Linked DNA regions of Homo sapiens. The protein of the gene in region 3 interacts with the protein of the main gene of each other region in a pairwise test. Each region holds a gene or a part of one and is shown on either strand. Other genes may lie near its edges. The genes, in order: AXIN2, FBLN5, TOP3B and CENPF.

Region 1 (8,110 bases), on a different chromosome or scaffold from region 3:
GAATGTTGCAACCCCAGGGCCTCTGGCCCTTCTGCTTCCTGGGTCACTTCTCCTTCTGACGTCTTCCCTTTCAGGATGAAGAGAGAGAGGGCTCCGAGCTCACACTCAATTCGCGGGAGGGGGCGCCCACGCAGCACCCCCTCTCCCTACTGCCCTCCGGCAGCTACGAGGAAGACCCGCAGACGATACTGGACGATCACCTGTCCAGGGTCCTCAAGACCCCTGGCTGCCAGTCTCCAGGCGTAGGCCGCTATAGCCCCCGCTCCCGCTCCCCGGACCACCACCACCACCACCATTCGCAGTACCACTCCCTGCTCCCGCCCGGTGGCAAGCTGCCTCCCGCGGCCGCCTCGCCGGGCGCCTGCCCCCTCCTCGGGGGCAAAGGCTTTGTGACCAAGCAGACGACGAAGCATGTCCACCACCACTACATCCACCACCATGCCGTCCCCAAGACCAAGGAGGAGATCGAGGCGGAGGCCACGCAGCGGGTGCACTGCTTCTGCCCTGGGGGCAGCGAGTATTACTGCTACTCGAAATGCAAAAGCCACTCCAAGGCTCCGGAAACCATGCCCAGCGAGCAGTTTGGGTAAGTGCCGGGCGGACCGCAGTGTCCCGTGTGGGGCTTGTCTCCCAGCCAGGTCCATGGGCAGGTGTGAGGTGGGAGCCGCATTACAGGCATTTAGTTTCTAAGAGGGCGGCAGAGTGCACGGCCGGGTGAGGGTGCGGGGAGCAGGTGCATGGGTCTTTCGTGTCACCAGCCCCCCGACTTGCTGAATTGTCTGATTCTAGGAGTCCCGGAGATTTAACCGGGTCTCTGGGTTGGGTGTGGTTCTTGGTTCCCCACAGCGGCAGCAGAGGCAGTACCTTGCCCAAACGCAATGGGAAAGGCACGGAGCCGGGCCTGGCCCTGCCCGCCAGGGAAGGAGGGGCCCCCGGCGGAGCTGGGGCCCTGCAGCTTCCCCGGGAGGAAGGAGACAGGTCGCAGGATGTCTGGCAGTGGATGCTGGAGAGTGAGCGGCAGAGCAAGCCCAAGCCCCATAGGTAAACACCGCTTGCCGCCGCCGCGGCCGCGAGGGTCATGGGCACTCAGTACGGAGGTATTGTGGGAATGGCTGTTTTTGCAGTCCGCGGAATACAAATGTGACTATTTGCTCCTGCCATCTTAATATTAAACGTTGGACTGAGCAGACCACAAAAATGTCATGTTTTGGCACTGACCCCTGTTCATGTTATGGTAGTTTTTTTTTTAACTCTCTCTCTGAGCAGAATAGACAAGTTTCTATTGAAGTCACATTTTCCAGTTCTTCTAACCCAGTTTCTTTCCTTCTGTTTTCTCTCTGCTCATTCCTTGTTTAGTGCCCAAAGCACAAAAAAGGCCTACCCCTTGGAGTCTGCCCGCTCGTCTCCAGGCGAACGAGCCAGCCGGCACCATCTGTGGGGGGGCAACAGCGGGCACCCCCGCACCACCCCCCGTGCCCACCTGTTCACCCAGGACCCTGCGATGCCTCCCCTGACCCCACCCAACACGCTGGCTCAGCTGGAGGAGGCCTGTCGCAGGCTAGCTGAGGTGTCGAAGCCCCCAAAGCAGCGGTGAGTGGAAGTGAAGGGTCCTAGGTTGAGGCAGGGATTGGGTTTGGGTGGAGACCTGGTCTGTGGCTAATGGGGAGGGCCTCTCTTTCTGCCTGGGTCTCAAACCCTCCCATGAGAAGAAGAATTACTTATGGATGAGTAAGCTGCTGCTTTCCAGCTTCTAGAAATTGTTCCCTTCAGTTATGTTCATTCTACTAGAGTTAAGCCAGGATCTGTGAGGCAAGTCATGCCTAGAATTGGGAGAATGAATTTCAGCAATTGCTTACAAATCCCATTCCTTACAAATGTCTTGATTGTTTAAGGCTGGTTAGTTGAGTATATAAGAAGCTGTGAGATGGAGGATCAAGAGTCCTCAGCCCTTTGCTGGGGCTGAGAATGTCCCATCCTGGGCTCCCAGGGGGGCTTAGAATGGCTGTTCCAAGACGTCTTCCTGGCCTCTTCAGCCACTGTTAACCCAGGGTCTTGGTTGGGTCTCCGTAAGGATGGAAGTCGGGTTCGTGTCTCTTCAGGAGGCCAAATAGTAATTTTCTGTCTGCTTTTCAATTGCTCTGGGGACAACAGTGTACCTCTAAATCCCTCGCCCTGGCTGTGTCCTCAGGTGCTGTGTGGCCAGTCAGCAGAGGGACAGGAATCATTCGGCCACTGTTCAGACGGGAGCCACACCCTTCTCCAATCCAAGCCTGGCTCCAGAAGAGTGAGTGTCTTTACCTGACATTACTGAGATCTGCCGAGTGCTTTATGTTTCAGAATATTCGCTATCTGGAGTTTCATTTTCATGAAACTTTTTTTGGTTTTTAAAATCACTTTGATTTTAGCGCTAGTGATGAGGAACAGTAAACGTAGATGTTGCCATCCATGTCCTGCCGACAAATGCATCATAGCAAAAGTTTTTCTGGTCATACACAAATCAAAAGCTGGGACATGAAGCCATTAGCAGAAGTGTAGAAGGGACCTCAAATTCAGCTGGAAAAGTTGCCCCCATTCAACTTGCAATTTAGTAGTACTGGAAACATTTGTCACCCCTGAGCAGAAAGATCATTCTCCACTGTGGCAGAGGTGGAGGGGACCATCCTTGTGTTTTTGTTTGGAGAAGACAGAATATCTTCCCCCAAATTGGGCAGTGATTCTTTTTGTAAATTTAGTCTCTTTCAAAGTAGGTTGAGGAGCCTGCTCGTTTAATTACTGGATGGTGCAATTAAAAAGAAATCTGCTAAAGAGATCTAAAATGGTCTGTATCAAGTTTTCTTTCTTAGTGTCTTCATCCTGAGCAATGAGCAATGTTTGAAGTCCTCAATAGGCCACTGCCCTGGACCCTTTCATTGTTTCAATTGGTTGACCCTAAGTGTACCAGCTCTCTGGGTCTGGGCCAGCCACTTTTTTTTTTCTTTTTGAGACAGAGTCTCGCCCTGTTGCCCAGGCTGGAGTGCAGTGGCTTAATCTTGGCCCACTGCAGCCTCCGCCTCCTGGGTTCAGGCAGTTCTCCTGCCTCAGCCTCCCGAGTAGCTGGGATTGCAGGCGCCCACCACCACACCCAGCTCCTTTTTTGTATTGTTAGTAGAGACAGGGTTTCGCCATGTTGGCCAAGCTGGTCTCAAACTCCTGACCTCAAGTGATCCGCCCACCTCGGCCTCCCAAAGTGCTGGGATTACAGGCGTGAGCCACCACGCCCGGCCTAGCAGCCTTTTTTTCAAGCCATTCTACAAAATCTCAGAAGAAATGGGGAAATGGACATGACTGTGTGATAACCCCCATTAGTTGTTCTCATTCTGCTGGAATAAGGGGTGGGCTTTAGGCATTCTGAGATCATGCCATCCCAAAGGTGTCCTGCTCTGGGTTTGTCTCTTTAGCACTCTCCAATCCAGGTGAGACCCGGCATCTCTGTGATAATTTCTCTTCTCTCATCTTCTTGAGGAAGCACCCCATTTATGCCAGCCTGAAAGAGGCCGCCGTATACTTTCATTTGGTGGCGGTGGGGGAAATGATACCAATTTGTACAACCAAAAGGAAATCATCCTTTTCTGCATGCTGCATGCAGCACATGTGGGGTTGGACTGTGTGTCCCCCAGAGCTGCCTGACTCTGGGATGTGGGGCTCTGCCCCAGCCCCCACTTTGGGTTTACAATTGCAGCCCTAGTGTTTGGATACCCTGTCACTTATGCACATGTGCGCACGTGTGTGTTTGCTTTAGATGTGTGTCTGCTTTAAAATGCTAAACTTGTTCCATTCCATCTTATTTTCAGTCACAAAGAGCCAAAGAAACTGGCAGGTGTCCACGCGCTCCAGGCCAGTGAGTTGGTTGTCACTTACTTTTTCTGTGGGGAAGAAATTCCATACCGGAGGATGCTGAAGGCTCAGAGCTTGACCCTGGGCCACTTTAAAGAGCAGCTCAGCAAAAAGGGAAATTATAGGTAAGAGTCCTGTGGCTTTTTTCTGCTCTCAGTTTGTTTGCTCAGAACCAAGAGCCAGAGCCTGGAGCAGCTCCCCTGGCTGAGCAGACCTAGGTGGGGCAGGGTGGGAGGGGGCTCAGCAGGCGCTGGGGGAGGCTCCCTTCTCATTTCTTCTCTCCCCTCACCGCTAGCAGCAATAACGAAGCAGCAGCCGCAAGAGGGAGGCTGCGTGGAGGGTTCTCTGGGGGACCTGGCCAGGCTCTTTCCACCAGGTGAACCAGACTGAGGAGAGAAAAGGAGCAGCTGCTTGCACCGACAGGAGAGTGGGGCTCAGGCCACACTGCAGAGGCTTTACCTGCAATTGAGGGGCTTGTGGGCGAGTGGGGAGCAGGGAGCAAAAAGAGGGACAGGCACACTGATTAGGAGGGAGGGTCTGGAAGCGCCGCCCTACTGGCTTGAGTTTAGGAGAGACCCCCACATTGAAGGCTCCAAATAGTCAGGAACCATGCCTAGGAAAAGTCCCCCGTGTTTTTCTTACCCTGCCTTTCCACCTGAACAGCCTCCCTGGATTTTATGGGCCATTAGAAGCAGAGATGCGCCTTTGTCCATAACAAAGAAGGGGCTGGACCTGCGGGTGGGCACAGGGTGAATAGGGCAGTCTACTCCTCCTGTCCAGGCCTGGGCCCCGCTGCCTTCTCCCCTGCAGGGGCTTCAGGAAGGGAACTTCCTGGTCTCCTTACCTTGTCTGCAGAGTGGACGGAGGTGCCCTTGAGAAGGTCCATGCTGACTTTTTAGGGCCCTTGAGAGGGTTCAAGAGCTGAGGAGGATGAGGGCCAGCCCTAGGCCATTCCTTCTCTTGATCATTTCCCTCGTAAGGAGCAGGTGATGACTCTGCCTCAGTTCATCTGGAGTCCTCCCTTGCCCCTCTCCATGGCCTGCAGCCCAAGAGAATGTGTGGATTCTGCTCCAGTTCTGTCCCAGGTTTCCCAGGTTTAGGGCTCCAGGCTGGGACAAGGGTGAGACAGGGGCACCCTAGTTTAAGGAGGTGCTCACTCTGGGGTCTACACCCAAGACAGAGTTCCAACTCCTCAGCTGTGTGCTGTTGTCCCTGTGCCAGGACCACAGTCTATTCCCAGGTGTGAACCCGTTGCCGCCACCAGGGCCAGGGGTGTGAGTGGAAAACTCTGAATAGCACTTGGTAACCTGCCAGGTGGGCATGGGCTCCTGGACGGGGATGAGTCCACCTGCAGGGCTCTGAGACACCCTCCCCTCTAGAGCAGGCCTTGTATAGTTTTACCAGCCACCTTCATCTGGGAGTTAGTTTGGGCGGGGGCTCAAAGTGATTCTCTTTGGAGTGGGGAGGGGATGGAGGTTGGACTGAGCCCCTGGAGGTAACTGGCCAGCAGGGCGTGTTGCTGGGTCTGGATAGTCCCTTTTATACCTGGGCAGAGACAATTGTGAAAAGGTATCAAAGGGGTGGGGGAACAGGCCTGGCTGCTGCTGCTGCTGCTTTTATCTTGAAAAGACACAAGGTGAAACTAATGACACAAGTGTGTCCCTCTGGGGATTCATTTTGATCTTGGCTTTGTCTCGGCTGGACTTCGAGTGGAACTGCAGGTGACCTTGGAGAAGAGCCATGTGGCGCTGGCATAGGCTTGTGGGGAAAGTGCCTCCTTCAGCTGCTGTGGCCACATCTGGCTCTGATTTTTTTTTTTTCTCCCTGAGGCACAGTTAATAAGCCTGGCTTTGAAGCCCTGGCCTCCCCTTTAATGCACAAAGACTTGCACAAATGGTCAACTCTCCGATCCTCTCCAGTTCTTTCCTGAGTGGATCAGGCTGTGGGAAGGCCCTCCCAGCTGCCTTATCTCTGCAGGGCCTGAGCTAGACTCAGTGTCCTCCTGGGGTAGGACAGGGACACAGGGTGTCACGCCTCACCCTCCCAGCAGGGCTGGTGCTTCAACATCTCAATTTGTACAAATACATCCCCCCTTCAAAAAAATAAAAAAGACCCAGTGAGGTTGGGGCCGTGGAGCAGGGGTGGGAGGTGGGGGGGACCTGGGATGCGTTGAGTAATCTCAACATGGCAGGGGTTCAAAAAGCAAACAGTCCCTTCAGACGCGCCAGACGCTGTTGGTGCCAGATGTCAGAAGAAAGCAAAGTTTGCCACATGAAGCATGTTGCAGTGGAAAAGCCTGTTTCTTGGAGAAAATGAGGGCAGTGCAGTGTGTTTGAAGTCCTGGGGGTGGGGCTGAGAGAATGTGGCCTCTCTCCTCTCTGGAGGAGGTTGCAATTATGTAAAAGGTCGCTGCGTGTTTGCTCAGACATGCTGTGAAAGCCCAACTTGGTAAACCCTGGAGGGGTCGGAGCTGGGGCCAAAGGGGTCTGACGGAGGGTGGCGTTGGGATTTGAGCCTCTTATGTGGAGAAGTGACTTTTCCCCCCACTGTCCTGAGTCTCCTGTGCACAGAGCCCCTCCCCATTTTCTCACTGTCTCCTCTCACGCTCCCCCGAGAATTTTGACCCCTTGACATGACGTGTCTTCAGTGCTGCCTAGTCAGAGCCATGCCGTTGTTCACCCCACTGCATTAGCTGGGTCAGGAATGCTAAAAACAAAGAACCTTGACTAAACCCAGCTGTTCACTGTATTTAGCCTTATCTCCTACGAAAGTATTTGGCTTGCCTTTATTAAAGAGGGAAAAAATTGAGCTCTAACCAAGGGGAGTTAATTTTTTTTTTTTTAAAGGGAAAAGACAAAGCCCAACCATAACCCTGAGACACAATTAAATGCTTGAAAGGTTCTCCCATCCCCCCAGGGGACTGTGACCTTCCCTCTGTGAGTGGCCTTTATGGGCTGGAAATGACAGCTTGCAGGGGCAAGTTTAATCCCTCTGAGGGGTCTCCCTTGGCTGGGGACAGGGAAGGAAGAGGCCCTTGCTTAATTTCCTCGGAAGGGGTTTAGGGGTGGGCCTGGCCCAAGAGGACAGCAGTTGTTTCCGAATGTGGCACTCCTGAGAGGCCAGGCATTTGCATCTGTACAATTAAACAGCCTCAGAAGAAAGAACGCTGGGGAGGGATGAAAGGAGCCTTTAATCAACGGGCATAATAGAAGGGCCTTTGGTGTTTGACCCTGGAGGGATGGGATGGGAGAAGAGGCCTGGAAATGGGGAGAAGAGGGGAGGGCATCATGGGGCCAGTGCCGTCTGTTCGGCCCTGGGAAGCTGCGCTGGGCTGGCTTGCCTCCTGTGTGGCTGTGCCAGGGCCATCCAGGAGTGTTGCACTTGGGACCTGGAGGATGGGAAGGCCGAGAGGCCTTTGGACTGCTAAACCATCTGGAAGTCAGCCTTTTACAGACTTCGGCAGGTTCCGGCTCTCCAGGTGTGATGGGTTCAGGATGGCTGAACCTGGAGATAGTCTGGAGTCTCTTTGAAGGACCTGCTTGGCTCCTGCTGCAAAGGAACTGCAGGCATTTGTCCTTCCCTTCCCTCCCCCACCCCACTGCTGAAAAAGGTTGGCGGGGGGAAAGCAGCTCTGCTTTTCACAGTGTATACGTGTCAGGAGACAGCAGAGGTGCTGGGTTGAAGATTGCAGGTGGCAGGCCCAGCCCAGGCTGCTGCTCAGTGGGTGCCTGGCCTTCATCATCTCGGCCCACCTGCTTCTTGTGGTGTGGCCAGTCCCAGCTGCCGTCTTAAAGCAGATGTGCGCAACAGTGTACAGGCACACCTGCCATAGCAAATTCCTAGGATACCTCAGTCCTCCATGTTGGTATGCTTTTCTTTTCAACAATGTGGAAAATGCAGTTTACCAAGAAGCTTTTTTGGTTTTCCTTTTAAGGTATTACTTCAAAAAAGCAAGCGATGAGTTTGCCTGTGGAGCGGTGTTTGAGGAGATCTGGGAGGATGAGACGGTGCTCCCGATGTATGAAGGCCGGATTCTGGGCAAAGTGGAGCGGATCGATTGAGCCCTGGGGTCTGGCTTTGGTGAACTGTTGGAGCCCGAAGCTCTTGTGAACTGTCTTGGCTGTGAGCAACTGCGACAAAACATTTTGAAGGAAAATTAAACCAATGAAGAAGACAAAGTCTAAGGAAGAATCGGCCAGTGGGCCTTCGGGAGGGCGGGGGGAGGTTGATTTTCATG
Region 2 (6,894 bases), on a different chromosome or scaffold from region 3:
CCACTGTGAAGTTTCTCCCTGTCTCCTAGTTCAGAGCAGGCAAGGGGTGTGGTTGGCCTCTGCCCTGTCCTCTTGTCACCCTCCCGGTAATGGTAGTGCTGGCCCTGGCTCCTCCAGGGCTGGCAGGGGAGGAGCAGGTGGTAGAAAGGGTAAGGCTGGAAGAGTGAGGCTCCTCCCCGATTGTAGCCATTGTAACCAGGCATTGGTATTCCCTCAGGAGCAGAGCCCCCAAAGCTGTTGCTCTCACAGGGTGCTTTTGTGGGTCTTTTGGAGATTTGCCTGAGGACTTCACACTGACCAGTCCCTGATATGGGCAGTAGGGCCTGTGGTTGGTCACCTGCTACTCCAAACCTCTCAGCCCCTAATTCTGGGGCTATGTCTCATACAGATGTGCCGTGGTGGTAGTGAGGTGGAGGGTATCACTGCATCCTGGCAGCAGACCTTACACAAGGGCCTTTCAGGATGTCAACATCAGCTCCTTGCATTCCCCGTTCCTCTCTATGGTGTGGGGCAGCTCAGGGCTCACATCTCCAGACTTCTCCTGGAGACAGTCTGGTACCACTTTCTGCATCCTTGAACTTCAGGGGCCTGCATCTCTAAACAGTTTTTCTTTTTTTGAAAACCCCTCTTGATTGAGATGGAGGCTAGTAAGTGTGTTTAATAAAATATATGTAGAGTTGGGCACAGGGGCTCATGCCTGTAATCCCAGCTACTCTGGAGGCTGAAGTGGGAGGATCCCTGGAGCCCGGGAGTTCAAGTCCAGCCTGGGCAACATAGTGAGACCCTGTCTCTACAAAAAAAGATTAAAAAATTAGCCAGGTGTGGTGGCATGACCTGTAACCACAGCCACTCTGGAGGCTGAGATGAGAAGATAACTTGAATCCAGGAGTTCAAGGCTGCAGTGAGCTATGATTGCACCACTGCACTCCAGCCTGGGTGGCAGAGCGAGACCCTGTCTCTAAAAACAAAAACAAACAAACAAAAAAGTATGTATGTAGGCTGGAGGGGGTGATGGAATGAGGGAAACATCTGGCTTTGGATCACAGCTTTGTAAGTCCTGTATAACCCCAATAACTCCACACACAGCATCAGCAGCAAGCCGTGTATAGTGCCTGTATGTGCCAGACACTATTCTAAGTGCTTTCTATACAGTAACCCTTTAATCTTCACAAGAATCCTATGATATAGGATGGTTTTATCGTCCAGATTTTACAGATGAGAGCACTGAGGCACAGAGCTAAGCAACCTGCCCGACTAGTCTCACAACTAATAAGCACCAGGGCAGGATTTGAACCTAAGCAGCCTGGCACCAAAAATCTGTGCTGTTATACTTTTCTTCAGAATGGGGAGGTATGCTTTACCTACTCTTCCAGCTTTGGGGTCTCAGATGAAATGGAGATCACAAGAAAAGTCTAACATCCAGTTACAATAGAAAGTATTCCAGAAATAGCAGTTATGATTGTATAGATACTGTTGTGGCCACTGCTACTGTTGCTGCTACTGCTGCAAGGAGGCTGGGAGCTGCTGGGCCATGGAGAGCTTGGGAATGCTACCCAGGGGACTGGAGCATCGTGTGGGAGGTGGGGCTGGATGGCCATCCAGGCTCTCACACCCTGAGATTCATTGATTTGATTATAACCACATGGGAGGAGCTTCATCTCACCCCGCAGGCAAACCACACACACACACTTGCATGCACACATGCACACACTTATGCCCACATGCGTACGTGTACACACACACACAAGCCCATTCATAAGCCTTATTGGCTGCCTGTCTCTCACTGAGCCCTAGAAAGAGGACTGATGATTGGCTTTGGCCAGGTGGCTTGGGGGTCATAATTAGGGCCAGAAGAAGGAGCAAGGTCATGGGGTTCAGACTGTGCCAAAGTGCACTTACTCCATGACACACGTGGATCAAGTGACAGGGCCCATGGAAGCTGGCCTGCTACAGCGTGGCTGCTTGCCACAGGTCAGACCATGCCATCCCACAAGTTGATTAGAATAAACCTGAGTGTGTTTGGGATCAGGGCCAAGAAGACACACAGCTGGTGGGCTGTTGGCAGCCGACTCCCAGCGTGGTCAAGTCCACTGGCGTTCAGTCATTCGTGTGCATTCTTCCGTTACCAGCGTGCATTCAGCACCACTGCATATGAGGCTTCAAGTCAGGCACTGAGCGTTGAGAAACAAACAGGATGTGGTCTCTGCCCTGGAGGAACCCACACACACCTTAGCGGAGAGGGGGAAAACAACCTAGCAAACACAACACAAAGTGGCGATTCTCAAGTCAAGTCAAGACCCATGGGATGGTGAGTAAATGGAGAGGTACAGAGACCTTATCAGAGAGTGTAGTGGTTAGAAGCATGATTTTTGGAGCCATAAAGTCTAGTACCATGCAGTAGTTTGGTGGCCTTATGTAGTATCCCTAACCTACTTAGAGCATAGGGTTGTGAAGATTAATTAAGAGGTGTAGGAAAGGTTGTAGCCAGATGCCTGGCATCATAACCACCACCGTCATCACTGTCGCCACCATCCTCCTCCTCCTCATCTTTTCGCACCACCAAGCCTACTAATGCCCACGGGCTCTCAGGGGTTTATTTCATTAATGCCCTGGCTCTGCCCTAAAAGCCGAATGTGGAGGTGGCTGTCCTCAGCTCTTGTGGCAGGTACTTGAGCTCTTCCAGGTGCTTGTGGGTAGGGTGGACCCAGGTGGAGGCCGGACTCACCAGCTTCTGCAGTTACTTCCAAATGGGAGAGTCTAGGATTTCAAATGGGATAGTTGAGGATTCTTTCGTACTCAGGAGACATTTACCAGGAGAGCCCAAAGGAACAACTTGGAAGTTTGCACTTGCCCCCTTCTCCCTTCCAGACCTTGGGCTCTGCAGATCTCCCTCTGGAGGGCTGTCCCTAGCTCAGGGTTCTCAACTCTTGGTCTTTGTTCACGCAGTGAAAGCTGGTGAGATATTTGTATATGTAAAGGCTGCAGGCATTTCCTTGTGTGGCTTTACCCTCTGAAGCCCTGGCCCAGGGCTCAGGTTTCGTAAGGGCTGACAAGGAAGTCCAAGAAATCTGCGTGAGGAGGTGCCAATAACGTGGATGCTGACGGGAACAGGAGGAACCAGTGCCAAGAGGAAATTGTGTGGCTGTCAGGCTGCCGATAGCCTCATGGATAGGGGAGGTCCCAGCGCCTGGCCTGCACCTGTCTGCCAGCCCCACCCTTGTCTTACTTGTGGTGGCTCTTGGGGATGTTCAGAACTTTATGGGGCGCCCTCCTTTTATGGAGACAGATAAAACATCTAGTGTAGCTTTAAACCAGCTAGGTTCCTTTATTTTGCAGAGACTGTTGCTTGCAGCTTCTGGGCACAGGGCTGGGCTCTGCAGTGTATGGGAAGTGATTGTCCAGCCCATCCCTTTTCTTCTTCACACTGTTTCCTCTAACAGTGCCAATATCTGTCCCTTGCACTGACCGCGAGCATCTCTCATTAGGTGGGTGCTAGGAAGAAGTGAAACACACATCAGCCTCTTCTGATACCTGCTGTGCAGTGAAAAAAGCCTGGGGCTTGGGGTCAGAAATACCTGAATGGAAGCCCTTGGTTCTGCCCAAGACTAGCTGGGTAACCCTAAGCAATTATTTAACCTCATGGGACCTCAGTTTGCTTACTTATAAAACGGGGAAGTAATGAGTCATACCTTTCATACAGCACTTAGACAAGGACAGCCAGGGCCCCCCCACCTGGGTCCTGTGCTTTTAGATCAATATTTCTCAATACTTAATGTGCACACAAAGCCCTGGGGATTGTGTTAAGCCACAGATTCTGGCTCAGTAGATCCTAGCCCTGAGATTCTGCATTTATAAGAAGCTCCCTGGTGATGCCCATGCTGCTGGTCCAGGGACCACACTTTGAGTGGCAAGGCCTTTCAGGGTTTTATGAGAATTTTTTTTTTTTTTTTTAGCTGGAGTCTCGCCGTTGTCCAGGGTGGAGTATAGTGGTGCGATCTCTATTCACTGCAACCTCTGCCCCCCAGGTTCAAGCAATTCTTGTGCCTCAGCCTCCCAAGTAGCTGGGATTACAGGCACCTGCCAACATGCCCTGCTAATTTTTCTAGTTTTAGTAGAGATGGGGTTTCACCATATCAGCCAGGCTGGTCTCCAACTCCTGGCCTCAAGTGATCCGCCCACCTCGGCCTCCCAAATGCTGGGATTACAGTTGTGAGCCATGGTGCCTGGCCATTTTATGAGGATTAAATAAGCAGATGTACATAAACATGGTTAGAAGAGTGCCTCACACATGATGGGTGCTCAGTTGATGTCATTCCTCTCTGCCTTCCTCCTTGAAAGTTTTAGAAAAAGACTCAGTGGAGGAGAGAGTTCACGCGAAATTATTAGGACCACAGTGATCAGGTTACAGAATGGTGAAGCTGGAGATGACTCTAGGGTGCCTAGAGGGGGGTTCTTAAATTCCACCTTTCCCAGGCATCACCTAAAAATATACTGACATAGAAAATCTTGGAATGGGCCCCTGGAATTGTTAGTTTAACAAAAAAAGTTCCAGTAGCCTTTGATGCCTTTTTTTTTTTTTTTTTAAATTACTGATCTGGTCCAAACCCTCATTTTATTTTTCCTCAAAAACGTTTTTTAAAACTTTTATTCCACTTTCAAGAGTACATGTGCATGTTGGTTGTATAGATAAATTACTGTGTCGTAGGAGTTTGGTGTATATATGATGTCATCACCCAGGTAATAAGCATAGTACCCAGTAGGTAGTTTTTCAATCCCCTCCCTCCTCCTGCCTCCCACCCTGAAGCAGGCCCTGGTGCCTGTTTTTCCCTTCTTTGTGTCCATGTGTATGTACTCAATGCCAAACCCTCATTTGAGAGATGAGCCCCAGAGGGGTGAAGTGACAGCCCTAAGCCATGCAGAAGTTTCAATCAATGATTCGTTCATCATTCAATATATGTTTTCTGAACACCTTCTGTGTTCAAGGCACCATGCTGGCTTCTAGGGGGACTCAGTGGTGAAAAGCCTGACCCCAGTACCTGTTCTTACAGAACTCATAGCCTAGTGGGAGCCTAGATATCAGACACGGATCAGGTAGACAGTATGGACAATCATACATGGTCATAAATGCTTTCCATCCTGTACAAAGTAAAGGCTGCAGCGTCAGAGGTCGCAGGGGGACCTGACTTAGATTGGGGAACCAGAGAAGGCTCCTCTTAGGAAGTGACCTTTCAGATGAGACCTGAAGGGTTTGCAGAAAAGAACCAGGTGGAGAGTGGGCAAAGCCAGGGAAAGAGCATGGCACAGTTGAGGCACCGAGGGGGTGCCAGTTTGACTGACGGAGGCAAGGGAGCGCCCAGGTGGGGCTGCAGGGCCACCATGCAGGCCTTTTCTCACTGGTGTTCCCCGGTTCTGTCCATAGCAAACGGGCCCCATCAGTGCCACCCTGGTGATGACACGCCCCATCAAAGGGCCCCGGGAAATCCAGCTGGACTTGGAAATGATCACTGTCAACACTGTCATCAACTTCAGAGGCAGCTCCGTGATCCGACTGCGGATATATGTGTCGCAGTACCCATTCTGAGCCTCGGGCTGGAGCCTCCGACGCTGCCTCTCATTGGCACCAAGGGACAGGAGAAGAGAGGAAATAACAGAGAGAATGAGAGCGACACAGACGTTAGGCATTTCCTGCTGAACGTTTCCCCGAAGAGTCAGCCCCGACTTCCTGACTCTCACCTGTACTATTGCAGACCTGTCACCCTGCAGGACTTGCCACCCCCAGTTCCTATGACACAGTTATCAAAAAGTATTATCATTGCTCCCCTGATAGAAGATTGTTGGTGAATTTTCAAGGCCTTCAGTTTATTTCCACTATTTTCAAAGAAAATAGATTAGGTTTGCGGGGGTCTGAGTCTATGTTCAAAGACTGTGAACAGCTTGCTGTCACTTCTTCACCTCTTCCACTCCTTCTCTCACTGTGTTACTGCTTTGCAAAGACCCGGGAGCTGGCGGGGAACCCTGGGAGTAGCTAGTTTGCTTTTTGCGTACACAGAGAAGGCTATGTAAACAAACCACAGCAGGATCGAAGGGTTTTTAGAGAATGTGTTTCAAAACCATGCCTGGTATTTTCAACCATAAAAGAAGTTTCAGTTGTCCTTAAATTTGTATAACGGTTTAATTCTGTCTTGTTCATTTTGAGTATTTTTAAAAAATATGTCGTAGAATTCCTTCGAAAGGCCTTCAGACACATGCTATGTTCTGTCTTCCCAAACCCAGTCTCCTCTCCATTTTAGCCCAGTGTTTTCTTTGAGGACCCCTTAATCTTGCTTTCTTTAGAATTTTTACCCAATTGGATTGGAATGCAGAGGTCTCCAAACTGATTAAATATTTGAAGAGAGCTTGTGTTTGGTTCATTTTGACATCATAGACGAGTCAGCCTTTGGGGTTCTAGTTCTGTTTAAACCTGTTTATTGTGCGCTGGCTTAGAAAGCTCTCCAGAGAGCTAGGGCATTATCTGTGACTCTGGCAAATTGATGGGAGGGGGGCGGTGGGGCAGAGAAATAGGGGTCGTGGGGAAGTTAGGGGGAGGCATCATCCCTGAGTCCTGTTTCATCTGATTAGAAAACAACCAACAATCCTTCTCTTACGTAGATTATTTCCGGTGCTCCTGCAGAACAGGAATGTATTCAAGTTACTTTAAACCAGTGGCCTTCAACCCTGGCTGCATAGACGGATAACCAGTAGAACTTTGGAGGAAAGATTGATTCCCCGGGACATGCCCCCAGACACTCTGATGTCATTGGGCTTAGGTAGGGCCCGGCCATCAGGATTTTTGAAAACTTGACTATGTAGCCAGAGTTGAGAATGTATTGTTATAAACCCTAGAAAGAGAGGTGG
Region 3 (8,110 bases):
ACGCCAGATGCAGTCTTCAGGAGGGGAGGGGCAGGGGTCAGAGCAAGTAGACTAAGGGGGAAAAGTGGCCTAGGCCGAAGCCTGCTGGCGCACAGGGAGGAAAGGTGGGTGCGCAGCAGAGCCTTGGGAGATGCAGCTGGAGCTGTCATGGGCCAGAGAGCTCATCTGCAGACAGTGTCGTCATTCCACAAGGCCTCGGCTCTTTCACTGTGGGATGGTTGTACATTTAAGGGGAACATCCACTTACTTATTTTGAGGAAAAAAGCAAATTGTCATTTTATTTGGGACAGCTTTCTGGTCAAGATTACTGATTTCACTGTAGTCCTGTGATCTCTTAAGTGGGGAACAAGGTTGACAGCCCAAGGCCGACCTTGGACCTCTTCCCCTGCACAGCATGATGAGCAGCAGAAGCCCCTTTAGTGAGGGAGTTCCTTTGGCATCCTTTCTGAACAATGCCCTTTACAACCCTCCTTTATTTTTCTGGTTTTATTGTAAAGTCCCTTGTCTTAGTTCTTGTCCCTCAGTCACCTGTGTCCAGGCGCTAAATGTAAAAGGTGCAAAAGGGAATGTGGTGAGGAGGCACCCCCAGCCCTGACCTCCAGGCCCTAACACCCACTCCAGGTGATTGCTTGGACTGTTTGTTTTGCGTTCCATCCAGACATATCGCCTCTTCATAATCAAGTGCACACGTGTGCACACATATGTGTGATCACAGATGGCAGTGCTCTCTACACACCGTTACATGCCCAGCTTTCTTAGCATGATTTATTTCAGTGATCTGATCCACGTTAGTATGTACCAAGCAGATGCTTTCCTTTGTAATGCTGCCAGGTGCTCTACTGTAGAGAATGCCATGCTTTTTTTTTTTTTTTTTTTTTTTGGAGATGGAGTCTCACTCTGTCGCCCAGGCTGGAGTGCAGTGGCGCAATCTCGGCTCACTGCAAGCTCCGCTTCCCGGGTTCACACCATTCTCCTGCCTCAGCCTCCCGAGTAGCTGGGACTACAGGCGCCTGCCACCATGCCCAGCTAATTTTTAGTATTTTTAGTAGAGACGGGGTTTCACCACGTTAGTCAGGATGGTCTTGATCTCCTGACCTCGTGATCTGCCCACCTTGGCCTCCCAAAGTGCTGGGATTACAGGCGTGAGCCACCGCGCCCGGCCAGAGAATGCCATGCTTTTATTTAACCACCTCCCTGTTGACAGACACCAGCTTGTTTCTAACCTTTTATCATGATTGATAATGCTGCAGAGAACTCCCCAGTGATGTGGTTCATCACAGGCACCACCGTGCCCAGCCTGAGGCCACTCCAGCGCTGCCCTGTCCTACCTCCTGGGGACTCAGAGTCCACATGGACAGTCTTGTCAGGGCCCACCACTGACTCCTGTGAGTCTCCCCAGGTGACTTCACTCTCTACCTGTCTCACAGCCCTTGCCCTCCCTGGGTCAGCATGCCACCACCCAGGCCCCTCTGTAATTCCTGTTTGAGCCTCCCACCCTCTGGGAGTTGCTTCTTTGACTCCCACTTCCTGCTCTTGTGCCTCACTTCCTGGACCCCACAGAGCACACCCTCTGTGGACCCTCCCCAACCCTCACCTCCCTCTTCACCCAACTCAGAGTCAGGTTCTGTCCTTGTAATCTCTCCCCTCGAACCCTGACCCACTCCCTCTCCCTCCTACTCACCTGGACTCTCCCATCTAACTAAATCCAGTGCTTCCTCTGCTGTGGGCCTGCCCGCAGCATCACCACCTGTCCTCCCTCAGTGGACAGCCGTACCATGCCTCCTCCTCCACCAAGAGAAGTGCAGCCTTGTGGCAGCTCTGCATCGCCTGGATGCTGACCGGCTGCCTCTCTTGCCCCTCACCCTCCCAAGGCCATCACTGCAGCAGTTCCTTCCCCTCCGGCACGCAGCTTCTCTTTTCCTTCTCGCCAGAGCAGTCCCATCAGCGGAGAACATGCTGGCACAGCCACCATCCTGAAACAAGAGGGGACAGTGCACCAGCCTTCTCCCATCTCCCAGGTTTTGTTGAGCTCACCCCATGCAGCTTTCATCTGTCACTCACCACATGGCCCCATCAGGATTACCCAGGGCTCTGTTTGCCAGACCCTACAGTCAGGTCTCAGCTGCCATCTCGCCTGGCCTGTCAGTGTCCCCCACATGGTGATAACTGCCCTGAAGTGCTCTTTCCTGTGGCTTTCAGGACCTTACCCCTCCTGACTCACCCTGCTAGCTCCTCATCTCCCGACCCCCAGCCTGGGCTCCTTCCACATTGCTGCCACCTCCTCCAGGCCACCCAGGCTGTCCAATGGGCAGGTCCCGTTTAACACACCTGAAGTCCCACATCAGACTGCCAGTCCCTTCCTGTCATGCCTAAGCCAAAGCCATGGGTTGTTCCTTTTGCTTTTTTGTAAAGATGAGGTCTCATTGTGTTAATCAGGCTCTTCTCAAACTCCTGGCCTCAAGTGGTCCTCTTGCCTTCGCCTCCCAAAGCACTAGGATTATAGGTGTGAGCCCATGGCAGGTGTGAGCCCATGCCCAGCTCTGCCTCAGGTCATTCTTGACTCACCTTCCCCTCCCCCTCCCATGTCCCGCCATCCCAGGTCTGCCTGGATTCTGACTTCCCTCGCATCCTCCACCACTGCTACCCAGGGCCCATTCATCCTCTTCTATGTGGCAGCCAGAGAGGTCCCTTTAACACTTGAAGTCAGATTATCCCACACCTATGCAAACCCTCTGCTGCCTCCCAGCACCCCTAGAGCAGACCCACATTCTACACCCCTGCTCCCTCCCTCAGCCCCATGAGCCCCCCTGCCCAGCCATATCCTCCCCAAGGACCTCACCTTCCCTGCTCCTTCTGCCTGGACTCTTCTCCCAGGTGTCACCCAGCCCTGCCCTGTCCCTCCCCTGCTCCCATACTACAGCATGAGTTCTGGGAGGGCAGGACCTGGTGTTGCTTTGTGCTGTATTCCCTGCATCCTGGACTAGGCCAAGCATGCAGTAGGTACTCAATAAATAACTGGACTATTAAGTTCATTCCAAGGAGTGGAATTGCTGGGATGTGCACTCGGACTTTGAGAGGGATCCCTGAATTGCTGCACATAGAGGTTGTTCCCATTTAACTTCCCCATGCCCTCATCTGCTGTGTGTGCAACGACTTTGAGTCTCTCCCTATGTGATAAGCACAAGCTCATTGTAGTTCTGAGTTTCTTCTGCGAGTGTTGTTGGACATGATGTGATACCACAAAGGTACTTACGTGGTGGTTTTCCCTTTTTTTTTTTTTTTTTTTTTTGTTTGAGATGGAGTCTCACTCTGTTGTACAAGCTGGAGTGCAATAGCATGATCTCGGCTCACTGCAACCTCCACTTCCTGAGTTCGAGCGATTCTCATGCCTCAGCCTCCCAAGCAGCTGGGATTATAGGCACCCACCACCACACCCAGCTAATTTTTGTATTTTTATTAGAGATGGGGTTTTGCCATGTTGGCCAGGCTGGTCTTGAACTCCTGACCTCAAGTGGTCCACCCACCTCAGCCTCCCAAAGTGCTGGGATACAGGCGTGAGCCACTGTGCCCATCTAGGTGGTAGTTTTTCTTTATGCTGAGATTATTTTATTTTGCTTTTACTTTTTTTGAGACAGGGTCTTGCTGTCACCTAGGCTGGAGTGAAGTGGCTGTTCTATCCACAGGTGCAGTCATGGCACACAACAGCCTTGAATTCCTGGCCTCAAGCAAGCGATCCTCTTGCCTCAGCCTCCTGAGTGGCTGACACTATAGGCATGTGCTACCACACCTGGCTTGTGAGATTTATTTTAAAAGCACATGTTTTTCCTAATATTTTCTGGTTTCATTGTTTCTACTCAAACCTTTGCTAGATCTGGAATCGGTTTTAGTGGGATTTAGGAAGCAGGAGTCTAACTTTATTTTTTTTCACAGCAGATTTCCCAGTTGTCTCAATACGAGTCTTTTTTTTCTTTTTTAATACGGTGCTATGTTTATAAACATCAGTGCTACATTTATAATGACTGAAAAAACAAAAAGGGTTCATGTGGTTTTCTTTTACTTGGCTAGCAGGTATTGAATGTCATGTGTCAGGCACAGAAAGCTGTTGCAAAGACCAACAGTGATTCAGACACAAAGCCCATCGTGTCCTATTTTGGGGGTGAAGTAGTCGCTGATGATGGCATGATGTGAGTGGGTTGGAATGGAGACCTAGCCCAAGAGCTGTGGGCACAGGAGGGCTGACTTACCCTGCCAGTGGTGTTGGGAGACTTGAGCTGGGCCTGTGGGCCATCCAGCTGCATCCTCCAGGCCTGGCGGAGCTTTCTCTCAGGCAGGGAAGCGCAGGCACAGAGGCTTCAAGTGCGTGTTTGCTTCGATGATGATATTTGATTTAATTTGGCCAGAGCATGACCTGCAAAGCAAAAGGTGGAGTGGAATAGGTGGGAGATAGATGTGACAGAGTCCTGATGTCTGCTTGGGGCTGGACCGACTAGCCAGAGGGTCTCAGGCCCATCATGGATCAGAAGGACCTGGGGGGCCCAGCCTGGGCATCTGCATTTTGTAAAGTGTCCTGGGGCGTCCAAGTGCTTTGCTGAGCGGGAGGTGCTGCTCTCGGCCACGATAGTTCCTCTTTCCAGGTGAGTCCACCTGTAGGTGGAAGAGCCAGTCCAGAGAGGAGGGCCAGGCATCCACCTGGCCTGACCCATCACTCCAGATCCCCAGGCCCCAGCATCTTCCTAGCATGGATTTAGGAATAAAATTGACCTGAGATCACTGGGGCCACTTCACCTTCCCCCAAATGGAGCCACATTCCCAGGATCATCTCAGCCACTTCAGCTGACCTGGTAGTTTTTTCTTGTTTTTAATCTCAGATGTCTTCAAGTTTCCCTAATTCCCTAATTTTTCTTCTTCTTGCCTCAGGTTGGTCTTGTTTTTTCTTTGTTAAAGTGATTTTCCTTGTAGTGGTGTAGGTTCTATTGACAGCATTGCTATCCTGAGTGTCTTTTCTTCTCTTTAGGAGTCAGCATTGGTAATAGTGCTGTGCTGCGGAAGAGTGGAGTCTAAACTTTTTCATTGCCAGTGCCCCGAAACTGGAGTGTGAAGGACCGAGACAAAATGAAGACTGTGCTCATGGTTGCTGAAAAGCCGTCCTTGGCACAGTCAATTGCCAAAATCCTCTCTAGAGGTAGGAGAGACCAGCCCTGCTTTGGTCTGTAAGCACGGTCGTTTATGTGTTACAGGACATTTTTTCCTAATGTGATTCCACCCTGGCTGGGGTAGATTTGGTTCGGGTCGGCAGGTGGTAATGAAGCATCTCAGTATGTCACAGTGGGGTGCATTTGCTTCCACTCCTGGCAATGTGCCAAAGCTGGGGTTCCCATAAGGCACAAGGCACAATTTACAATGAAATTGAAGGACAGTCATTATCCATATGCTGGGCCTGGTGGGGCTATTAGGTACAGGTAGTAGAAACCAGCCCTGGAAGGAAGGAGACGCAGCCAGGACTACACCCCAGTCAAGGTCTGATGAGGCTATGCCCCAGGCATTGTCACCCCTGGATACTCCCACTGTCCTGTGGACCTCACGTCACTCCAGAGTAGCCAATGGACTGAGCTATGGCCACAGGCACTACTGAGACACCAGGGAGCTCGAGAGGGAATGTCTGCCACTCACCCCCAACTCTGGCCACTGGGGTGGTTGGTAGGGTGCTGTTTCCCCCTATCTTTGAATTCCCTCCAAATAGGAAGAGTTTTAGATGCTGGGTACCCAGAAATGACAGGCACCTACCTGGCCTCCCCTTGGTCCAGCAGTTGAGAGGGGAAGAGACCCTCGTTCAGCTGAGAAGGCATGGTCCGCAGGGGACGGTGCCCCAAAAGTGGTGCCCGGTGCCCAGAAGCTGAGAAAGTACAGCTGAGTATGGTCAGTGGAGAGGGTGAGAATTCGATAATTAGAAGGTCCCTGGTAACCGAGAGTAGATCTGGAGTCTGTTTTAGTAAACGATGAATAACGTTTCAATGAAGTGAGGCAAAAATGGAATTGAAGAGTGAAAACATAAATACAGAGAAAGAGCCCACCCCTGCCTGCTCCTGGCTCCCGGCAGCCTGGGGCTCTGCATCGAGAGTGCTCTGTGCTAGGTTGTTGGCAGATGCTGTTTTCCCTGAGCGCCGTCCCACCTCTCAGTGCCCAACTACCCGCACCAGTCTGCGGAATGTCGTCACTCACCACTCTGGGGAAGGAGGACTCTGGCCCTCTGGGAGGTGGCATCCGGGCTGGGGTCTCCACAGGGTCTTCAGCTCAGCTGAAGCAGCCAGTCACTTTGTGCTTCCTCATCCCCAGGGAGCCTGTCCTCACACAAAGGGCTGAACGGGGCCTGCTCAGTCCACGAGTACACTGGGACCTTTGCTGGCCAGCCAGTGCGCTTCAAGATGACGTCTGTCTGTGGTCACGTGATGACCCTGGATTTCCTGGGTAAGCCCCTCTACCCTCCATCCTACTGAAGGGAGTTCTGCATGGCACTGGCCAGGGTCCAGTTGAAGCCAGGAGATGCCTCTAGGCAGGGAAGTTTGTCCCAACTCCATGAGTCATAAGGCCAGCAGATCATGAAGTAGCAATGAGAGGGTCCCTGGTGCGGTGCCCAGAACCCAGGCTCTGGAACTCAGCCCTGGGTCCCCATCATAGCGGCACCCCTTAGTCGCTGCATTCCCTGTGTGCCTTCCTATGTAGACAAAGTGGCAGCACCTATCTTAGGAAGGGCTTGACCTGTGCAGGCATTTAAGAGAAGGCTGCTGCTGTTGCCAAGTTGACCGTCATCTGTCGGTCATTTGGTGGCTGTCGTTGTCATTCCTATATTGTTACTGTTATCAATTACCTTGGAAGCGCCAGTATTAGTGACCTGCTGGGTGTAGGTTTGGGGCCATGTGGTTGGCAAGAGTCTGATCCAGGCTTTTCCCCCTGCTCTGCCGGCTCACTGGCTGGGGATGTGGGCAATGACGGCCTCTGAGTTTACACTTCTCATAGTGAAATGGGTCTCACAGCAATGCCATCTGCTTCCCAAGGCTAAGGATTCAGTGTGACAGTGAGGGCAAAGCACTCAGCACAGGGCCCGACACACAGCAAAGCCTCAGCCCTTGTTCTTGCTGCTCATTGATGACAGTGATGACAATGATGGTGACTGAGTTGTGTGGCTGAGCATTTGGACCCCAAGTTTTATCTCCAACTGGCAGGTGGGGAGCCGGGATTTGAATTTGGCTCTGTCTGACCCCATTCTCCCAGGATGCAAGAAATGGGGCCTGGGGAGGATCGCTTGAGCCCAGGAGTTCAAGACTAGTCTGGACAACATAGTGAGACCCCTGTCTCTACAAAAAAAAAAAAAAACAAAATTCTTTTTAAATCAGCTGGCATGGTGGTGCGCACCTGTAGTCTTGGGAGGCTGAGGTGGGAAGATGGACTGAGGCTGGGAGGTCGAGACTGCAGTTAGCCGTGATCGTATCACTGTACTTCATCCTGGGTGATAGAGCGAGACCCCTGTCTCAGAAAAAAAAAGAAATGGGGCCTAAAAGAAAGCCAGACAGCTGAGCATGCAAGAACCGGGTCTCTGTAGATGAGTAGGTGAATGTGCTGGGCATGAGGCTCAAAAAGATGGTCCTTTAACAGGAACGACTGCACACATGTGTGCCCCCACAGAGTGCTGGGTGGAAGGACAAAGTTCCAGAAACTCAGGTTGGAAGTGTCAATGAAGGCACCATTGTGGGGTCCAGTGCTCAGGCAAAGAGACCCAGCCCAGGAATGGTGCTCCCAGCCACAGGGAAAGTCCCGGAAGTGAGGCCAGAGTGGCAGCCCCCCGAGAGCTTGCTTGGCTCCTGTGGTTGGCCGGGGTGTGGTGGGTCCGCTCAGCAGCCGAGCAGAAAGGAGGCTGGATGGGAGGGGGTTACCAAAGGCCTGAACCCACATCCTGGCTCTGCCTCTGATCATCAGGATGACCCTGGGCAAATTGTTCTCCAAGCTTTCCCCTCCTCATTTGTGGGATGAGGCCAACATCCTCCTGGGGTTATGATGGTCTCGGAGGCTGAGCTCCTGTGACTCAATGTCACTGTGACTGGTTTGTAGGAAAATA
Region 4 (8,110 bases), on a different chromosome or scaffold from region 3:
AACAACACAAGAATGGTAGAAATTTCTTCTCCATCAAACCCCACAGGAAAGAATGTTTTTCTGTTTATTCTTTAAATGTTCTATGATCACTTTTTAGGCTGTAAAGATTAAGAAAACTTTGTCCATAAAGAACAGTTATTTGTTCAGGTGAGGAAAGTCTAAATGTATTTATCCCCACCGCTTTGCAGAGTGTATCATGATGGTAAAATCAGAACATCTGTCAGTAGCAGACAGGTGATTGTTAAATCAGCTAACCCCAAAGGGGCAATACTGCTGGAGATAGGGGGCTGCAGCTCCAGCCACAAAGTGGAAGAAAACTTCAAATCAGATGATAGTTTCATCAGCAAACGTTTTCAAATGGAAGTGTTTGTTTCAGCAAAACAAATGTTTGCCTTTTGGCCAGTGGGGACCAACCAACAGATGCTTCTGCTAACATTTCCACAGGCAGACTGGCATCGAACTCTTCCCTCTGTGAGCTTCCCTTTCAGCCAGGAACTCTCCCGCGACTCCACTGGCTGCCTGGTGGAAACATTTTGTAAAAGCAATCATCTGGTTAAGAGAGTCCAAACACTTTAAAAACTGCTTGCTTGGCCAAGTCGCAGTAGTGGGCTGGACATTGTCTTGCAGGTGTTTCTGAAGACTTGTTCATCCCCACGAGGTCTGGTCCGTGAGCTGTAGCGCTGTCCTCAGTTAATCCCAGCCTGTACTGAGGTGCATGCATCACATTTCACTGGTATATCATTGATGTCTGTGTCAAATGAGGGCATCTGTGTGAAAGTGTCTAGCACCGGGCCTGGGGATGAAGTTAATATTTGTCTTAATTTATGGTTATGTTTATGTATGTGTCATCTTTTGAGGGTGATAGCAAGATTTCAAAGAGTTTGGCTGGCTCTTGTGTTTTGCATTGGGATTGGGACCAGATAACTGATGAACCCAGTTAGAGTGGTGGTGTAACTTAGTGGGAAAATGGTAGTGGCTTTAGAGTGAGTGAGATCTGAGATTGTGTTGCTTTTCTGCCACCTACCACAATGTGACCTTTAGACAGTGGCTTACCCTTTCTCAGTCTGACTTTCCTCATCTGCATATAGGGACAAATCATTCTCCTGCCTTTTCAAGGCTGTATTCTTGGTTAAGTTAAATATTGTATGTAAAGTGCTTAGCCCAGTGCCCAGCACATAAGTGCTCAGTCAGTTATTGCAGTCCAACACCTGCCCATTGCCTTGGTCTTCATCACTGCCATGACCTTTTGATGTTAGCATTGTTTGCTGTCACCTACAGGCACAGAAAGTGTGATCAGGGGACAGTGCACTTGAGATTTCTCATATTTATAATTTTGCCTGTTCTATTACTGTGTCACTCTGGGTATCTTTCTGTGTCTAATTATATGTAAGCACTAACAAATTTAGGACGCTTATAGGTTTTGGATGCCGAAATAATGTGACAGTTGTACTGAAATTTTCCTTGTCTGTGTTTAGTAAACATGCTGCTCACAATGAGAAATTATCAGTACTGGAAATGTGATTTAATGGCCCAATCAAGGGTAAAGTTAACATTTAGTATCAAAGTGAATGGAGGGTTTAGATAAGCTGCTCGTCCACTATCCAGTGCCAGCCCCATAGCATTGGGGTTAGGCAATAAAATACCATCGTTTGACAGTCAAGATGAGGGAACACTTGCCTGGGGACCTTTCCAAGCATAGGGATCTGTATTACACTAGGTCCTCTAAGGAGCTGGCTCTGGCAAGCAAGAGAGATGAGGAGGAAAGGGAAAAACACATTCTTTGCATCCATCCCTTATCCAAGTATATAGGCTTCGCCCAGCAGGGGACGTATTAAGCTATATTCATGGATGGGATCATGAAATGCCACACAGTAGCTGAAATTTGTTTTGTCTGGCCCTAGGAAATGATGCCTCCCTTGCTGCTCCTAAAGCGAAGTTGATCTGGGTGGAATTGCTTGCTAAGCTCTAATGCTGGCTTGTGGTTATAGGGATTTTTGTTGTGCTTTTCCAGCATAGTACCCAATTTTGCAAATCATGTGAGGATGCAGGAGATGCCTAGGAAAATGTATCTTTGTATGCTTAACTCATTGTTGATAATGAGATACCCAATCAAGTCTTAAGTGGCTGTAGCCTCGTGGAAAACTAATTGCTGATGGATGGCAGCTTGCACATCCATTTTCAGATGTTCATTTTCTAAATTCTGGCCTTTTAAAATTCTTGGGTTGGTCATAGCCATAGCATTATAAGCCTGCTGGGTCCCAGGATTGGCTGAACATTTCTTCGTTAGACACAAATATTTACGGAGCTAATGCCAGAATAGAGAAAGTCATGTTAATCTTTCCATTGAGCTTACTATTCATTTAAATGTCTCCAGTTATGGACAGACATGGATCGAGACCAACAAACACATAAACATAAAATTCCCCATCTTTCCCTGGTGCCCTCTCTCTCTTCTTTTTTCCTTCCTTCCTATTGGGACGCACCTAGTTTTGCACAGTGTCTTTCCAGCTTTCTTGTCAAGCCTCCAGATGCAGGTGTCATTTGATTTGATTAAAAAATTTTTTTTTTAGAGTAAGAAAATATTTTTTCATTTGCAAAATAAAAATGCTAAGTCGACCCAGGTAATTACATTCTAGTTCCTCTTCTATGTTGACCTCATTCAGCTGATCTTAGCATTGATTACAGAGATCTGGCTACTGTTAAATTTTGGGAGGAAATACTACTAATAATGCTACATTGCCCCTGTCAAAGTGCTTTAAGATGTTTGTCCTTTCACATCTGTGATCTCATTTGAGGGGTGATTATTCTGAGTCTGAAGAACAAACCAGTCATTATACGTTCCATAATTTAATGATGCTAATTTAAATCAATAACATTGTTGCACCTTAATGATCGTGCTTTGCAAAGTTTAACACTGACTAGTGTGAATGTTAGCCTATCAATCTTGAGATCGGTTGGAGCTGCCCTTTAGTTCTGATTGATATCTTAATTCGATAGAGTGTCAGTTTAGCAGCAGGGAAGCAGGATCAGGACACGGTAGATGGGAGTATAATAACTACAACAGGTTCTGTCTTATTTTAATGATGAAATGAACGCATATACATGAACGGAGCAGCTGCCAGCAAGTTTTCAAGTACTTTCTACTAGCCAGATTCTCCCTCTTCTTGAATTTGGCTTTGCTACATCGGTACCCATCTGCTGGTAGTAACCAGACTGATAATTGAAGGCAGCCTTCCAACACAGTATTGCCACGGCCATCTGTTTTCTAACAGTGCAGTAGGGTTTTGGAGGATGGGTCTTAATTGTTTCTTTAAGATTCAGAATTTTTCCTCTACTTCACAAAGGGGTAATTTTGGTAGGTTTGAAATGCAGTTTAGAAAAAAGTTAGCTTTATATGATTTTTCCCCGCTTGAGGATGTGAGGTGCTTGGTTCTCTTAGCTTGTAATGATTTATGCCAATTCCCTGTGGTCCAAAGGGTGGCATACAGTATAGGTTGAGATACTTGTTTGTTATGTGAGTCTTATGTGGTTAATAAGCAAAAAAGTTTTTCTTTGGCATGTAAATATTGCTTGCTTTTAAGATTCAGAACATATAGGCCTCCCTAGTAGTAGAATGGAACTACACATGTACCTGTGTTACTTTATTGCATGCTGTTGCGTGGATGTCTCTTCAATCAGATGCCCAAAGAACCTGTTTTCACTGTGAAAGCTCAGAAGCTAGAATTAATTCTTCCTCTGTGTTCCAGCCCTCTGATTTCCCATAGCACACTCAATGTCTCTTTAGTATTTAGCATATCCTATTGTGTATTAAATGATTAGTATCACATCTTCCCCCACTGGAGGATGTCTGCCCCAAGGGCAGAGACTCTGTCTTATTTATATTTGCATTTTTTGTAATGCACATTCCAGCATCTTGAATATTGTTGGTTTTCTTGATAAGCATTTATTGAAGGTAATTTTTCCCACAGAATCATTCCTGTAACAGCAAACCTTAAGATGGTTTTGCAATGAAAAGTAAACATATGTGCTGAGATTTTTTTTTTTTTTTGGTTTATTAACAAATCAAATGTTTGCAAAGGTATATTTGGCCATTCAGGTGTGATAGGAACTTGGAGGTTTTGTCTTGAGGATCTTGTAGATAGGATTTTCCTTTTGAGCTTACTCTTTAATAGGCGTATGAACAATGAGAAAGTTCAATGAAACTTCTTGAAAGAAAAAATTATCTTCAGATTTGGGTTTGATGCTGTTGTCTTCTGTTCATAACATTATTTAAGTAAGAATGTCTGACTTCATTAGGTACTCAAACGGGGAAATTGTGATTCTTTCCCTAGTGAGATACACAAACAGTTCTGCTAGGGACCTTTATTAAGGCAGAAGTCATAACTTACTTGAGCATTCGTTTTGGCTATAACCAATTAAAATGTGTGTTTTAGGAAATGAAGAAGGAAAACAACCTCCTTAAGAGTCACTCTGAGCAAAAGGCCAGAGAAGTCTGCCACCTGGAGGCAGAACTCAAGAACATCAAACAGTGTTTAAATCAGAGCCAGAATTTTGCAGAAGAAATGAAAGGTAAGTAAACTTAGTATTTTAGAGTTACCTTTCTAAGCTGCTATTCCCGTGAGAGGGGATGGATGGCATTAACATATTAGAGAAACTCTTTGGATTTTTTTTCATATATTCCCTCAAAAAGATGTGCGCAGTTGATGTGGAAGAGTTTTCCCTCTTCTAGTTTTTAGTTTCCAGAGTGAGAGTGGGACTTTTTTTAATTGGAACATATTGAGTCCCAAACGCCTGATGCTCAGCACTTTGAAATCAGAAGGGTAAATATTTTCCACACAAAGCTAAATTGTCAGTGCTGTCTCTCACCCCCGAGTGCTATTCTCTGTGTCTCTAGTGTGCTTGTTAGTTACATCCAGACAGCTCATCTCCTGACTCATTACCATTTCCCTTATAATGGAAAAACCCTATATTAAATGCATGTTTTCCAAGCTCCTAATGACCATTGTTTTTTGATGACTTACTTGACTGAATGATTTTATTTTCTTATTTTAAAGCCAAAGAATTCTGCTCTACACATCAAATGAATCCACTCTTGGTTTCATATTTGTATGTTTGTGCCGGATGTCTTCTACATACCCTTTATTTTCTCACCTGGGGTGTTTGCATATCTAGAATTTCTTTGAACTCTGTCCTGTGGAATGTGTGTCACACTTCTCTGTGACTATTTTTTTAAAACCCCAATCTTGGTGTGGTGGCGGGTGCCTGTAGTCCCAGCTACTCTGGAGGCTGAGGCAGGAGAATGGCATGAACCCAGGAGGCGGAGATTGCGCCACTGCACTCCAGCCAGGGCGACAGAGCGAGACTCCATCTCAAAAAAATAAAACAAAACAAAAACCCAATCTTCCCAAGACAGCTTTTAGTTTTTCCACAGCAGCAGATAGAAATGTCAGTTTTCAGCTTTCTTGAAGGGAAACTGTAAGAAAAGGAACAGTTGGGGCATTTTTCAGTGTTGATCACCCAGGTGATTGTTTGAGTTGCTCACAGCAAAGTGGGATGAAGCCCTTGTGGTGCTGTCTACATAAGCCCTTAACTATAAGTAGGTAGATTGAGATTGACAGCTTAGAAGTTCGTACTGCTTTCCACTTGATATGATGTCTGAGATTGTAATACATGTTACCTTTATCATCTACTGTGGAGGTTCTCAACTTTCAATCTCCCCCAACATACTTGAGCAACATGAAGCCTTCTTATCACTGTTTAATGAAAACATCGTGGTTATTCCCAACCAGGAGGGGCCAGTATGTATAGATGAGTCATTAGGCAGAAGACAGGGGGTAACGGAGTTTGAAGAAGCTTCCAAATGACTGTGACATTCATAGACACTGCCACCCTTACTATGAGGGGCTGGGATGGGGGTGATAATGTTCCTCAGGAATATTCACATATAGGCCTTGAGAATTACTGATATATGGCATCATTTACTCTTTTCTACTTAAGTCTAATCCTGTGGATGTTTTAGCTAAAATGGTGGAGTACTTATTTACTTTTCTGAGACATCAGAATTACTCTACAATAAAGTGGGATGTTCCCATTTCAGTGCTGTTCTTGTCCCAGTTTTCTCTCTTGGAATAAATATTTGAAAAGATGGTAAAAATATACACATATGTAAACACATACAAAGAAAAGAAACAGTGCTTAGGAAAATCATCCCTTGGTATTTTATTCAATAACATGTTCTTAAGCTGCTAGAAAGAAGATGAACAAATGTGTTACTCTCCTTAAGATAACCATTTTTCTCATTTTTATATAAGATAATTACCAAGTGATCCACTTTCTAGGAGGTACCCAGGCAATAATGCCAGTTTTTCCAGGGCTTGAGTAGTTGTTAGTTTGTTTGGATTTTGCCAGGGGGCGGGGGGAGGGGTTAGCGTTTCTGTAGAATAAACATTTATTACAAACATTGACGACTTTTATTTATTTTTAAATAGCGAAGAATACCTCTCAGGAAACCATGTTAAGAGATCTTCAAGAAAAAATAAATCAGCAAGAAAACTCCTTGACTTTAGAAAAACTGAAGCTTGCTGTGGCTGATCTGGAAAAGCAGCGAGATTGTTCTCAAGACCTTTTGAAGAAAAGAGAACATCACATTGAACAACTTAATGATAAGTTAAGCAAGACAGAGAAAGAGTCCAAAGCCTTGCTGAGTGCTTTAGAGTTAAAAAAGAAAGAATATGAAGAATTGAAAGAAGAGAAAACTCTGTTTTCTTGTTGGAAAAGTGAAAACGAAAAACTTTTAACTCAGATGGAATCAGAAAAGGAAAACTTGCAGAGTAAAATTAATCACTTGGAAACTTGTCTGAAGACACAGCAAATAAAAAGTCATGAATACAACGAGAGAGTAAGAACGCTGGAGATGGACAGAGAAAACCTAAGTGTCGAGATCAGAAACCTTCACAACGTGTTAGACAGTAAGTCAGTGGAGGTAGAGACCCAGAAACTAGCTTATATGGAGCTACAGCAGAAAGCTGAGTTCTCAGATCAGAAACATCAGAAGGAAATAGAAAATATGTGTTTGAAGACTTCTCAGCTTACTGGGCAAGTTGAAGATCTAGAACACAAGCTTCAGTTACTGTCAAATGAAATAATGGACAAAGACCGGTGTTACCAAGACTTGCATGCCGAATATGAGAGCCTCAGGGATCTGCTAAAATCCAAAGATGCTTCTCTGGTGACAAATGAAGATCATCAGAGAAGTCTTTTGGCTTTTGATCAGCAGCCTGCCATGCATCATTCCTTTGCAAATATAATTGGAGAACAAGGAAGCATGCCTTCAGAGAGGAGTGAATGTCGTTTAGAAGCAGACCAAAGTCCGAAAAATTCTGCCATCCTACAAAATAGAGTTGATTCACTTGAATTTTCATTAGAGTCTCAAAAACAGATGAACTCAGACCTGCAAAAGCAGTGTGAAGAGTTGGTGCAAATCAAAGGAGAAATAGAAGAAAATCTCATGAAAGCAGAACAGATGCATCAAAGTTTTGTGGCTGAAACAAGTCAGCGCATTAGTAAGTTACAGGAAGACACTTCTGCTCACCAGAATGTTGTTGCTGAAACCTTAAGTGCCCTTGAGAACAAGGAAAAAGAGCTGCAACTTTTAAATGATAAGGTAGAAACTGAGCAGGCAGAGATTCAAGAATTAAAAAAGAGCAACCATCTACTTGAAGACTCTCTAAAGGAGCTACAACTTTTATCCGAAACCCTAAGCTTGGAGAAGAAAGAAATGAGTTCCATCATTTCTCTAAATAAAAGGGAAATTGAAGAGCTGACCCAAGAGAATGGGACTCTTAAGGAAATTAATGCATCCTTAAATCAAGAGAAGATGAACTTAATCCAGAAAAGTGAGAGTTTTGCAAACTATATAGATGAAAGGGAGAAAAGCATTTCAGAGTTATCTGATCAGTACAAGCAAGAAAAACTTATTTTACTACAAAGATGTGAAGAAACCGGAAATGCATATGAGGATCTTAGTCAAAAATACAAAGCAGCACAGGAAAAGAATTCTAAATTAGAATGCTTGCTAAATGAATGCACTAGTCTTTGTGAAAATAGGAAA

What was found.
Region 1: the proteins of TOP3B (region 3) and AXIN2 interact in binary tests that used the Homo sapiens proteins (3 or more experiments, as listed by UniProt).
Region 2: the proteins of TOP3B (region 3) and FBLN5 interact in a two-hybrid assay, tested with the Homo sapiens proteins (one study listed by BioGRID).
Region 4: the proteins of TOP3B (region 3) and CENPF interact in a two-hybrid assay, tested with the Homo sapiens proteins (one study listed by BioGRID).

The regions. Positions count from the first base shown.
Region 1 is NC_000017.11:65,529,800-65,537,909, reverse strand, and holds part of AXIN2 (axin-2), read left to right. Parts: intron 1-74; coding exon 75-586; intron 587-846; coding exon 847-1,041; intron 1,042-1,356; coding exon 1,357-1,590; intron 1,591-2,188; coding exon 2,189-2,284; intron 2,285-3,830; coding exon 3,831-3,998; intron 3,999-7,807; coding exon 7,808-7,934; 3' UTR 7,935-8,110. UniProt on the Homo sapiens protein: Inhibitor of the Wnt signaling pathway. Down-regulates beta-catenin. Probably facilitate the phosphorylation of beta-catenin and APC by GSK3B.
Region 2 is NC_000014.9:91,868,911-91,875,804, reverse strand, and holds the end of FBLN5 (fibulin-5 isoform 1 precursor), read left to right. Parts: intron 1-2,129; coding exon of another isoform or gene 2,130-2,308; intron 2,309-5,419; coding exon 5,420-5,581; 3' UTR 5,582-6,394; downstream 6,395-6,894. UniProt on the Homo sapiens protein: Essential for elastic fiber formation, is involved in the assembly of continuous elastin (ELN) polymer and promotes the interaction of microfibrils and ELN. Stabilizes and organizes elastic fibers in the skin, lung and vasculature.
Region 3 is NC_000022.11:21,972,712-21,980,821, reverse strand, and holds part of TOP3B (DNA topoisomerase 3-beta-1), read left to right. Parts: intron 1-4,634; exon of another isoform or gene 4,635-4,841; intron 4,842-5,014; 5' UTR 5,015-5,112; coding exon 5,113-5,182; intron 5,183-6,333; coding exon 6,334-6,465; intron 6,466-8,103; coding exon 8,104-8,110. UniProt on the Homo sapiens protein: Releases the supercoiling and torsional tension of DNA introduced during the DNA replication and transcription by transiently cleaving and rejoining one strand of the DNA duplex.
Region 4 is NC_000001.11:214,633,433-214,641,542, forward strand, and holds part of CENPF (centromere protein F), read left to right. Parts: intron 1-4,433; coding exon 4,434-4,569; intron 4,570-6,488; coding exon 6,489-8,110. UniProt on the Homo sapiens protein: Required for kinetochore function and chromosome segregation in mitosis. Required for kinetochore localization of dynein, LIS1, NDE1 and NDEL1.